3 separate regions of the Homo sapiens genome follow, and regions 2 and 3 are each reported to be linked to region 1. The links are microRNA targets in miRTarBase. Many come from high-throughput screens and were not tested one by one. Region 1 holds a microRNA gene; each other region holds the end of a gene's coding sequence.

What was found. The annotated mature microRNA hsa-miR-26a-5p reads UUCAAGUAAUCCAGGAUAGGCU and lies in region 1 at 1,613-1,634, opposite strand. An mRNA with a match to its seed (bases 2 to 7 or 8) in the 3' UTR can be bound and repressed. Matches are read on the target gene's strand: a 7mer-m8 pairs with bases 2 to 8, a 7mer-A1 pairs with bases 2 to 7 and ends in A, and an 8mer does both.
Region 2: miRTarBase lists RPS24 as a target of hsa-miR-26a-5p. The part of its 3' UTR that is shown has no 7-base or 8-base seed match.
Region 3: miRTarBase lists ACBD5 as a target of hsa-miR-26a-5p. Seed matches in the 3' UTR shown: 8mer at 2,553-2,560 and 7mer-A1 at 2,492-2,498.

What each region holds. Positions count from the first base shown.
Region 1 is chr12:57,823,046-57,826,238 of GRCh38, forward strand. It overlaps MIR26A2 (microRNA 26a-2), which reads right to left and starts at 1,647; the gene lies at 1,564-1,647. It overlaps CTDSP2 (CTD small phosphatase 2), which reads right to left. Exons shown (of 8, transcript NM_005730.4): 6 at 1,182-1,274; 7 at 859-1,044; 8 at 1-682. The coding sequence ends at 557.
Region 2 is chr10:78,039,732-78,042,731 of GRCh38, reverse strand. RPS24 (ribosomal protein S24) reads right to left here. Exons shown (of 6, transcript NM_033022.4): 5 at 2,507-2,528; 6 at 2,035-2,117. The coding sequence ends at 2,526. Among named protein-coding and RNA genes, the nearest start is that of RPS24, 7.4 kb to the right of the region's middle. RefSeq lists enhancers at 1-101, 1,382-1,431, 1,500-2,001, 2,322-2,831, 2,832-3,000.
Region 3 is chr10:27,194,671-27,197,670 of GRCh38, forward strand. ACBD5 (acyl-CoA binding domain containing 5) reads right to left here. Exons shown (of 13, transcript NM_145698.5): 13 at 544-2,772. The coding sequence ends at 2,760. Among named protein-coding and RNA genes, the nearest start is that of MASTL, 41 kb to the left of the region's middle.

The DNA of each region.
Region 1 (3,193 bases):
AAGTTCTCATCTTCCCAGAAATGTGATCTTTTGTCTGCAGCAGCTGGCTGGAGAAGGATTTCAGAAAGGTGTGTGCCTGGAGTACCCAAAGGCATACCCTTCCTTTATCCTTGGCATAGGCCTTACAACACTGAGGAAAGGCCATGGTTTGGCAATGGAGTCTTCAATAGTCTTCATCCCTACACAACTCAGTGGCTCTTAGGGTGACAGGAGAGGAGACAAGCTAACTTGGGAAGAGTCTTGGTCTTTCAGCTTCTCCCCCACTGAAACACTATACACTGGGGCCACAGTTCATGGCAAAACACACACACAAACACACACTCTCTCACAGTCAAACACACATCTCAACAAGTTGGCGGCAGGTAGCTCTGGGTATCATTGGTCTGGCATTCGCCCACTCGGCATCTAAGCTGTCCTAAAGCTCTTTCCAGTTACTTCCCGCTGTTTCCGGGCCGTGTGGTGAGGCACTCCAGCTTCTACTCTGTCACGCTGATCGTAAAGGCACAGTGTGGGAAAGTCCCCTACTGGGATGGCCGTCGCTTGGAAGCAGGGCAGGCTAAGGGGCCCGCAGCTGCCCAAGGCTGGTGTAGACGTCCTCTGCTCCGCTCAGCTCCTCAAAGATTGGGATCAGGTTCAGCAACTCAGTGTCTGCCATGTCATCAAACCAGGACTGCACAGGCACCTGGTGGGGGGAAGATGTGGTGTCAATCTCCCGACTGCTGCTTCCCCCTCCCTCGCCCCAGAGCCCTAGAGGGTGGCTGGGTCTTCCTGGAGGGGTGTACTTCTCTGGTGGAGCCCACAGTTCCAGTCTGCTTCCTCTCCCAATCCCTACCGTGGAGACGCATCAGGAGCACTCACTGCATTCTCGGGGTGGAATATGTAAGAAGCAGGCGAGTTGTCCAGGATGAGGGTCTTTCTCAGGTCCCTCCCCAGGCGGCTGAGGTCCTTGACGTAGCAGCCCTGGTGGAACACGCAAGACTCACGGAATAGGCGGGCCCGGAACACCCCACACCGGTCCAGCAGGTCTGTCACAGGGTCGGCATACTAGGAGGAGAGAAGATGCCTTAGTTTGGATACACTCCTGGTCCTCCTGTATAACCCTAGGGACCAAAAGGGAGCTGCTGGACCACCCCCGTGGCCACCACACCCACTCCTGGTTCTTCCCTCTCACCCCTAGGTACCTTGGCCAGGCTGGCAGTGAAGAGAACACATTCAAAGAGTTCCCCCATGCGTCTCAGGAACTCATCCACATAAGGCCTCTTGAGCACATACACCTGAGGAAGAGCAGAGCAGCCTGTTGGAGGCATCCCTGTGATGAAGGTTTGCAGTACTGGGTACCTTCACCAGTTACACAGCAGCAAGGAGCTCTCAACCCCTGCAGCCCAGCCTCCTGGGCTACCTGGCTGGAAGCCTGCGGCCCCCTGAGACCCCACAGACCCGGAGAACTGGCTGTACCCCTCACCAGGCTTCCAATGGATCAGTGGTCCCAACCTCAACCTGGCTCAGGAAGAAGCGCACACACCATGTCCCAGGAGCCATCTCTGTTTCCGGCGGCGGACCATCAGCTGCCTCCAGAAACAAGTAATCAAGAATAGGCCTCACAGATGGAAACAGCCTATCCTGGATTACTTGAATCCAGCCACAGCCTCTATGGGAGCTTTCTGTCCTTGGCTCCGACAGGACAGTCTGTCCAGGTCATGATTAGGTAATGAATTGCACCAGGGAGAAGTGACTTTTTCCCCTCAATGACCATAGACTAGACAGACACCCTGCCGAGTCTTGCTCTGCACCCGATCTTGTGCTTGCTTCTGCCAGCCACCACTAACACCTTTGTCCACCCTTACGATCTTGCACATTTTGGGAAGTCCTTTGGCCACCTGACCCCCCATCGGTCTGCATTCTATTGCTTCCATGACTCTAGCCTACACAGCTGCTACTAGAACCATTTCCAAAAAGGTCCTTTTTCTTTTCTTTATTTACTTATTTTTTTTAGAGATGGGGTCTTGCTATGTGAGGCCAGGCTGGTTGTGAACTTGTGGGCTCAGGCATTCCTCCTGCCTTGGCCTCCCAGAGTGTTGGGATGACAGGTGTAAGCCACGGCACCTGACTCCCAAAGCTCCTTTACCTGCATTACTCCCGAGCTCAAAGAGAGTCGGCCTGCTGTGACTCTCCCTCCTAGAGTAGGCCTGAACTGGCCACCAACTCACCAGACCACTCAGAGCTCTGCAGGAACCCTCTGTTCTAGGCAGCCACAACTTAACTTCTGTTAGCCTGCCATTCCTTCGACCTCCAACAAGCCCCTTCCTCATCCCAGCTTTCATCAAGTCTGGCATCCTTTCACCCACCTTGGGCAGGTAGTGCTCCCTCATTTTAATCTCATCCTTTTAAAAATTATTCATACCCTTCCTTGTTAGCCAGGAGTTCACAGTGTATATCTGTTTGAAAATATGCCTTCATCTTTTCTACAAGGGTTTAGCACATCCCTATACCCTCAGCTAGACTGTCAAAGGGCTGCTGGACCAAGCCTAGTCCTGACCGGGGCCTGGCGCTGGGCATGGCAGGCCTTCTGGGCAAGCAAGCTGAGTAAATGGTCTTTCACTAGCAGTGTCACATGATCCTTAACCTGGGACTGCCTGGGCTGCAGGCTGGAGCCTGGTCTGTTTAGATTTGAGTGCTCTTTACATTGACAGACACACACTGAGCACTTCCTCAGGCAGAATCCAATGGAGGGCCCCAGGGAAGGCAGTCAGAGAAGGCTTCACAGAGGAGGAGATGTCTGGGCTGGGGAGGAAGAAAGTCACTAGCTATTCACAGTGGGGGTGGCAGGGGGAGCATGGGCAAGAGGGCATTCCGGGCAGAGAAAATGGTTACTACTGATTTCCCTGCCTGTTACAGGCAAAGAGATACCTGGTTAAGGTATCTTAACAGGTATAGATACCTTTCTTAAGGAACAGAGAAATGTAATAAATCATTTAACAGTGCTGGCCACGTGAGGGGATGGTGGTTAACAAACGATAGCTATTATTATTATTAAATAAAATGTAAACTATTCTTTTAAACAGCTTGGTTGCAAAGAGAAAACAAGGGAGACAGCTGGGTGGGATATGGGGCTGAAACTCTTTTTTTAAGGTGAGAAAGCCTTGAGTGAAAGATACCAATAAAAAGGGGAGGCTGGAGTTATAGAAAAGGGATC
Region 2 (3,000 bases), not on the chromosome of region 1:
CTGAGTTTCTCATCACTCTTCAAAGATCCCTGCTCTCTCTAAGCCACAGCTTCCCATCAGTGACAAGCTGAAGGAAGGGATGTGCTCCCTCAATATTGATTCAGCTTAGTAAAGTCAAGTTTGCATTTTATGGAGGCTCTTCCAAAGCCTGCTGACAGCACAGGGTAGCCTGGTTACTGTGAGGGCCTACAATGTGCTGAATCTGTCCACAGTTTGAGTTCCCACAAGTCCCTGCTTCCTGACAAACAATTGCTTAGCACTAGTTTCCAAACTGTTTTCACAGTTGTTACATCCTCAGCCTCAAAATAGCCTTGTGAGCCAGGGTAGCTAGCAGATACCCTTGGGAGCCCAATTTAAAAGACAAATTAACCCTAACAAGGTACCAGGTGACTTCCCCAAAAAACACTTGGATGGACTAGATGGAAGAGAAGCAGGCAGCAGGGACAGAAGACCAGAGGGCAGGTAGAGGAGGGTGTTAGCTGGCCGTAGGAGCAAAGGCTGTGGAGACCAGAGAATACCTGTCCCAACAGATGCAGCCAGCCTGGAGCCCTGCCAATTGTTATCAAACAGGAAGGTGGGCTACTACTGCTGCTTCTGGTATTTCAAGAGGCTGGAAATCCAGACCTTTACGTAAAATTTGCCAAGTTTCCAAATGTTATGCCTAACAAGGCTCACAGCAAGACTGCCACATTTTCTATAATATCACAACCCAAGTGGATCCTCTGGAAAAATAGGCCAAGCCTGAGTTTCATCCCACCTCCCTTCCCAAGGCTACTGGCTGAAAGACTACAACTTCTGCCCTGAGCACAGCTGAACAGAAAAGCCTCCCCACTTCGTGACTTTGATGCCAACCTTCAATCATTCAGGCTCTCTGCAGCTATGCCCTTTTTCTTCACATCAGAAACTATTTCCTACCCTTCAGTTCTCAATTGCTTCCTTCCACTCTCCCTGCATCAACTTAGCAACCACCCCCAGCTCCACGTCCTGTCCCATCCCATCCCATCCCATCCCTGCAGCACTGTCAGGATCCTCACCACCTTGCCTCTGCAAGCTGCTCACAGGGTGCCTTCTCTGCTTCCACACTCCAGCTCAGTCACAGGAAACTGCATCTCAAACCCCAACCTTTGCTGCCCCTAGCATTACCTTCAGCCTGGTATGCACTGTTCATCAAAAAATGTCAAATCACATCAAAGACCCCATTCTTCCACACGTTCTGTACTAGTAAGCCATTTCCTGGTCCTAGCAAAGTAGTAGCAGATTCCTTAGCAAGAGAACCTACAGGGCCAGAGGCCCCACAAACCGAAGTACACAGCCTCTGTAGATATGAAAACAGAACTCCAACCACCCCCTGGCCAGCAGGCCCAGCCCCATGACTTAACTCTTCTCAGCCCTGCCCTCCTGTCTGTAGGTGCTCCATGCAGGGGCTGTGACCATCTTTTCTCCAAAACATTCCACTACCCTTCCTTCCTGCAACCTCAACCCTTCTGCCTTCACGGTATTGCTTTTCCTGAGTCCCCTTCATGCCCAACCAAGTCTTTCAGCTCTCTACTGCTTCCTGAGATTTCTCCAGTTTATCCAGACATGGTACTTTTTAGACTCTAAGCCAGACGTGGTCGCTCATGCCAGTACTTTATGTGGCCAAGGTAGGAGGATCGCTTGAGCCCGAGTTCAATCAAGACCAGCCTAGGTAACAAAGCTAGACCCTGTCTCGAAAAAAAAAACACCTCACTGTAGCCTCGAGCTCCTGGGCTTAAGTGTAATCATCCCACCCAAACCTCCCAAAAGTGCTGATGACTGTGAGCCACTACACTGCGTCCACCGCGGACATGGTTCTTAACACAGCATTTACAAGCTTGACTCCCAGATGAACCCACCTAAGCTATAAACCAAGCAGCAAACAAACACCACCCCATGACATTAAGTTTTCACTGAATGCTTCATGGAGCATGTGAACTTGGACAGCAACTGAAATCAGCAGACTAACCTCCTAGCAGTCCCAGGAAACTGCAAATACATTTCAAACAACCAGACACATGAAGTTTTTAGTTTATTAATGTTCTTGCGAAAAATCCACAGTGGCCACAGCTAACATCATTGCAGCACCTTTACTCCTTCGGCTGTGAATCAAGAGAAAGAAGTTTAGTCAACAACTGCCTTTAAAATTCTTTAAAGTCTTCAATTCCAAAAGTAGTAACACTCATGCACAACAATTATTAGTAACCTAGAATATCAAGTTATTTTGATGTTATCATAACACAATGAAAGCATCAAGAAATAAAATTTACAAACATTCAAGTTAAGAATAAAACAAAAATAATGGGCTAAATATTGCTAAACCTTAAAAACAAAACCATGTCACTGTTAGTATTTTAAAAGGTTACAACTCTTCAGAATATTTGTAAATCTACTTCTAGATGTACTACACATGATCTGCTTTTAAATTGCTACGTCAGTACACCAAGGAGTCTAGTGATCTACATGACTACATGAAAAGCTTGAATTATACCTGTGATCCAATCTCCAGCTCACTGAATCAGTGGCGGGGAAGGGAAAAAGAGAAAGGAGGGAAAAGAAAGATTTCATTAATAGTCCCTTTTCAAACTCCAAAATAATCTGCATTTAAGTGCATGCAATCAGGTACCTTAAAGATGACCATTTTGTTCTTTGCAATTGTATACAGAGCACTCCTTCCAGACTCACTGATTTTATTCCTCCCAATTCTGACAATGCCTTGCCTGATTACTGTAGTTCTTATGCAAACGAGGTAGCCGGACTTCACAATGAAGAGATCATTAAGCCAATGTGGTACCCAGGATGGCCTTGCCCACTTGTCAATGAAGTACATACCTGAGCCTCTGCCCCTCTGCTCTGCCCAGCAACATTGTGCTGGACACACACCAGGAACAGTTACGAGAATCATTACAGATTCAAGTCTAATTTAACCTCAATGGGAGTGCTCTAAATGATCAGGCAAGTCTTTTAAAAGCTGCCTCAGTTCAA
Region 3 (3,000 bases), not on the chromosome of region 1:
TGTGTGGCTGTGGGAAGCTATTTATTTGGTGTAAGAACTGAAACCGGCTGGGTGCAGTGGCTCACGCCTGTCATCCCAGCACTTTGGGAGGCCGAGGCGGGTAGATCACGAGGTCAAGAGATGGAAACCATCCTGGCCAACGTGGTGAAACCCCGTCTCTACTAAAAATACAAAAATTAGCCGGGAGTGGTGGCACGTGCCTGTACTCCCAGCTACTCGGGAGGCTGAGGCAGGAGAATCGCTTGAACCTGAGAGGCGGAGGTTGCAGTGAGCCGAGATCACGCCACTGCACTCTAGCCTGGCAACAGAGCGAGACTCTGTCTCAAAAAAAAGTAAAACCAAGAATCTGACTGGATTGCTAATATTCTCAACCAGATGACTAAATAAGTTAAATTTCATCCCAGTTTCTGATTTTTATCAAATTGTGTGGAATAGCATGGCTTTATTTTGAGAGTCATAATTACTTTATGTGCGACTACTACTTACTCTCATTGAATTCTTACCTAATCAATGGGCTAATAGTAACAAGTAATAAAAGCCATATCATTTCTCATTAACCTTTTATTTTTAACTTAGTTTTACAATAAACAGAAAAGAAGTTATCATTAAAAAAATACCATAGCTGTCAAGTTTAAATGAGGTTCTTATTAAACAAAGCAGGAACACTATATCCTATAATTACATCTTTACTTTTATATACAAGAACTGTGTGCAAAGTGCTTTTCAAACTATAAAATAAGACTTTGGAACAGGATAGAAATGGTTATCCCTAGGAGTTAGTTATCCCAGACTGCTTGTAATGATTCACAACTGCTTACACTCTTAATTTGCATTTTATTTATTTATATACTAAGAGAAAAGACACTTTTTACTGATACCAAATTGATATCTCATTTTTGAAAATAATCTTTGATCCACAGGTCTAAATGTTATTTTTACATATAAATTCAGTTGCTTGCTTCACTTTTTCCTAAATAAATAGGGAACACTTTTTTAAAAGCAAATAGTAGTAGATCCCTTTAGACAGACATATTTTAATCAGTATGGGATTAAATAATTAAAGTTATTTGAAAGAAAAAAATAAGGAAAAAGAGTTTGGGAAAAGTAAATTGTATTCTTATACTTTTCAGGCAAACAAAGAACCATTCTGTATACTAAAGACAGATTATTTCTTATTTAAAACACTGTGAACATATGATGTTAAACCCAACATCATACATCTTGAGAATGCTTAAAAATTATTTGCTACAGGCCAGGTGCAGTGGCTCACGCCTCTAATCCCAGCACTTTGGGAGGCCGAGGCAGGCAGATCACCTGAGGTTGGGAGTTTGAGATCAGCCTTACCAACATGGAGAAACCCCGTCTCTACTAAAAATACAAAATTAGCCAGGCATGGTGGTGCATGCCTGTAATCCCAGCTACTTGGGAGTGAGGCAGGAGAATCACTTGAACCCAGGAGGTGGAAGTTGCAGTGAGCCAAGATCACGCCATTGCCCTCCAGCCTGGGCAACAAGAGAGAAACTCCATTTAAAAAAAAAAATTATTTGTTACAAAGACTGCATCAAAGAAATCTTCAAAGCACAAGGTACATCTAAGTGAGCAGGAAGTTTTGGAAGGCATACAGGAAAAGTCTCCAAGGATCTAAATTGTAGTCTTCTTTTTGGTCTAGATGAGAGAGGTGGGGAAGAGGGACTTAAATTTCTGTTAGCTGGGCATGCCTTATTCCTATGGAAGCATTTGGCCCGTTAGCTTGCAAATCCCTCCAGTACTCCTGTGAAGTAGGTGTATCTAAAATAGTATACCCCGAAGGAAAAACTGAGGCACTAAGAGGTTAAGAGTCCAGTCTATATAGTTCATCAGTTGCAGAAAAGTGATTTTCGTGTGTTTCCTTTTTGACTGTTGTAAAAACAGTATAAATAAGTTTTCATTTTATATTTCAAAGCACCCTATGAAGCAGACACTAGATATCCTCAGTTAAACAAAAATGATTACAAAGGAATACATTTATATGATTGAATAAAAACCTGATTAATCATCTACAGGCTCAGAATACACTTTTAAACCTACATGAAGCTCATTCTTCACCATTTCCATCAGTGGGTTATGTCTAGCCTGCAAATCATTTGTAAAAACTCAGTCTGGTACATAGGACTCCACTTTTTAATAATGATGCCTGAACACCAAACTCAAGAGTTGTGAATGCCCAAGAAAGATTATGGGCAGCCCACAAAGTGAATATGACCATTCTTCCTGTGGTTTTCTACTACATGCCATGGCAACTCCGTGACTAAGATATAAAGTCGATTACATCTCATTTGAAATTCACTCCTGGTTTGCATTCTTTCTTTTATTTAATTTAGAAAATTAAAAATAATAACTTATAAATTTGATCTCATTATCACAATGGTACCTTTGAAAAGCAGCTTATGTTACTCTATGGAAGATAATCAGGTAAACATGTTACCAAATGATCATTAATAATTTAATGTCCTTCAAGTTCAAGGGCAGGGTAAATCTGTGTATACTACTTATAACCTAGTAGAGATTGATTATTCAAGTATCAGCAATATTAGTCCTTAAAATGTTATCGTTTGTGTAGTGCAAAATATATATGTGTATATATGTACACAAACTAAACTACTGGACAACAAAAAGCAATGTAATCATCACAAACTAAGATTTTCTTGTGAACACCACAATCCAGTTCATTCTGAGGTCATCCAGTTCCAGTAGTCTTCTTGAGGAAAACACCATTTTCCTCAGTTCAGTTTTCTTTAAAAAGAAAATAAAAACCAATTTCCTGTGAGTATGAATGCAAATAATTCTCTGGATGGTAACATAATAATAATAACATACAAATTCAAAATAAAACCATAATATTACCAACAGTCTTTATAGAACTACATCATATGACTTGCAGCCTGATAGGAAAGATCCAATTACAAGTGCTGAAATTACCAAACAGTTTTAAATTATTTATTTATTTATTTACTGGGGCAA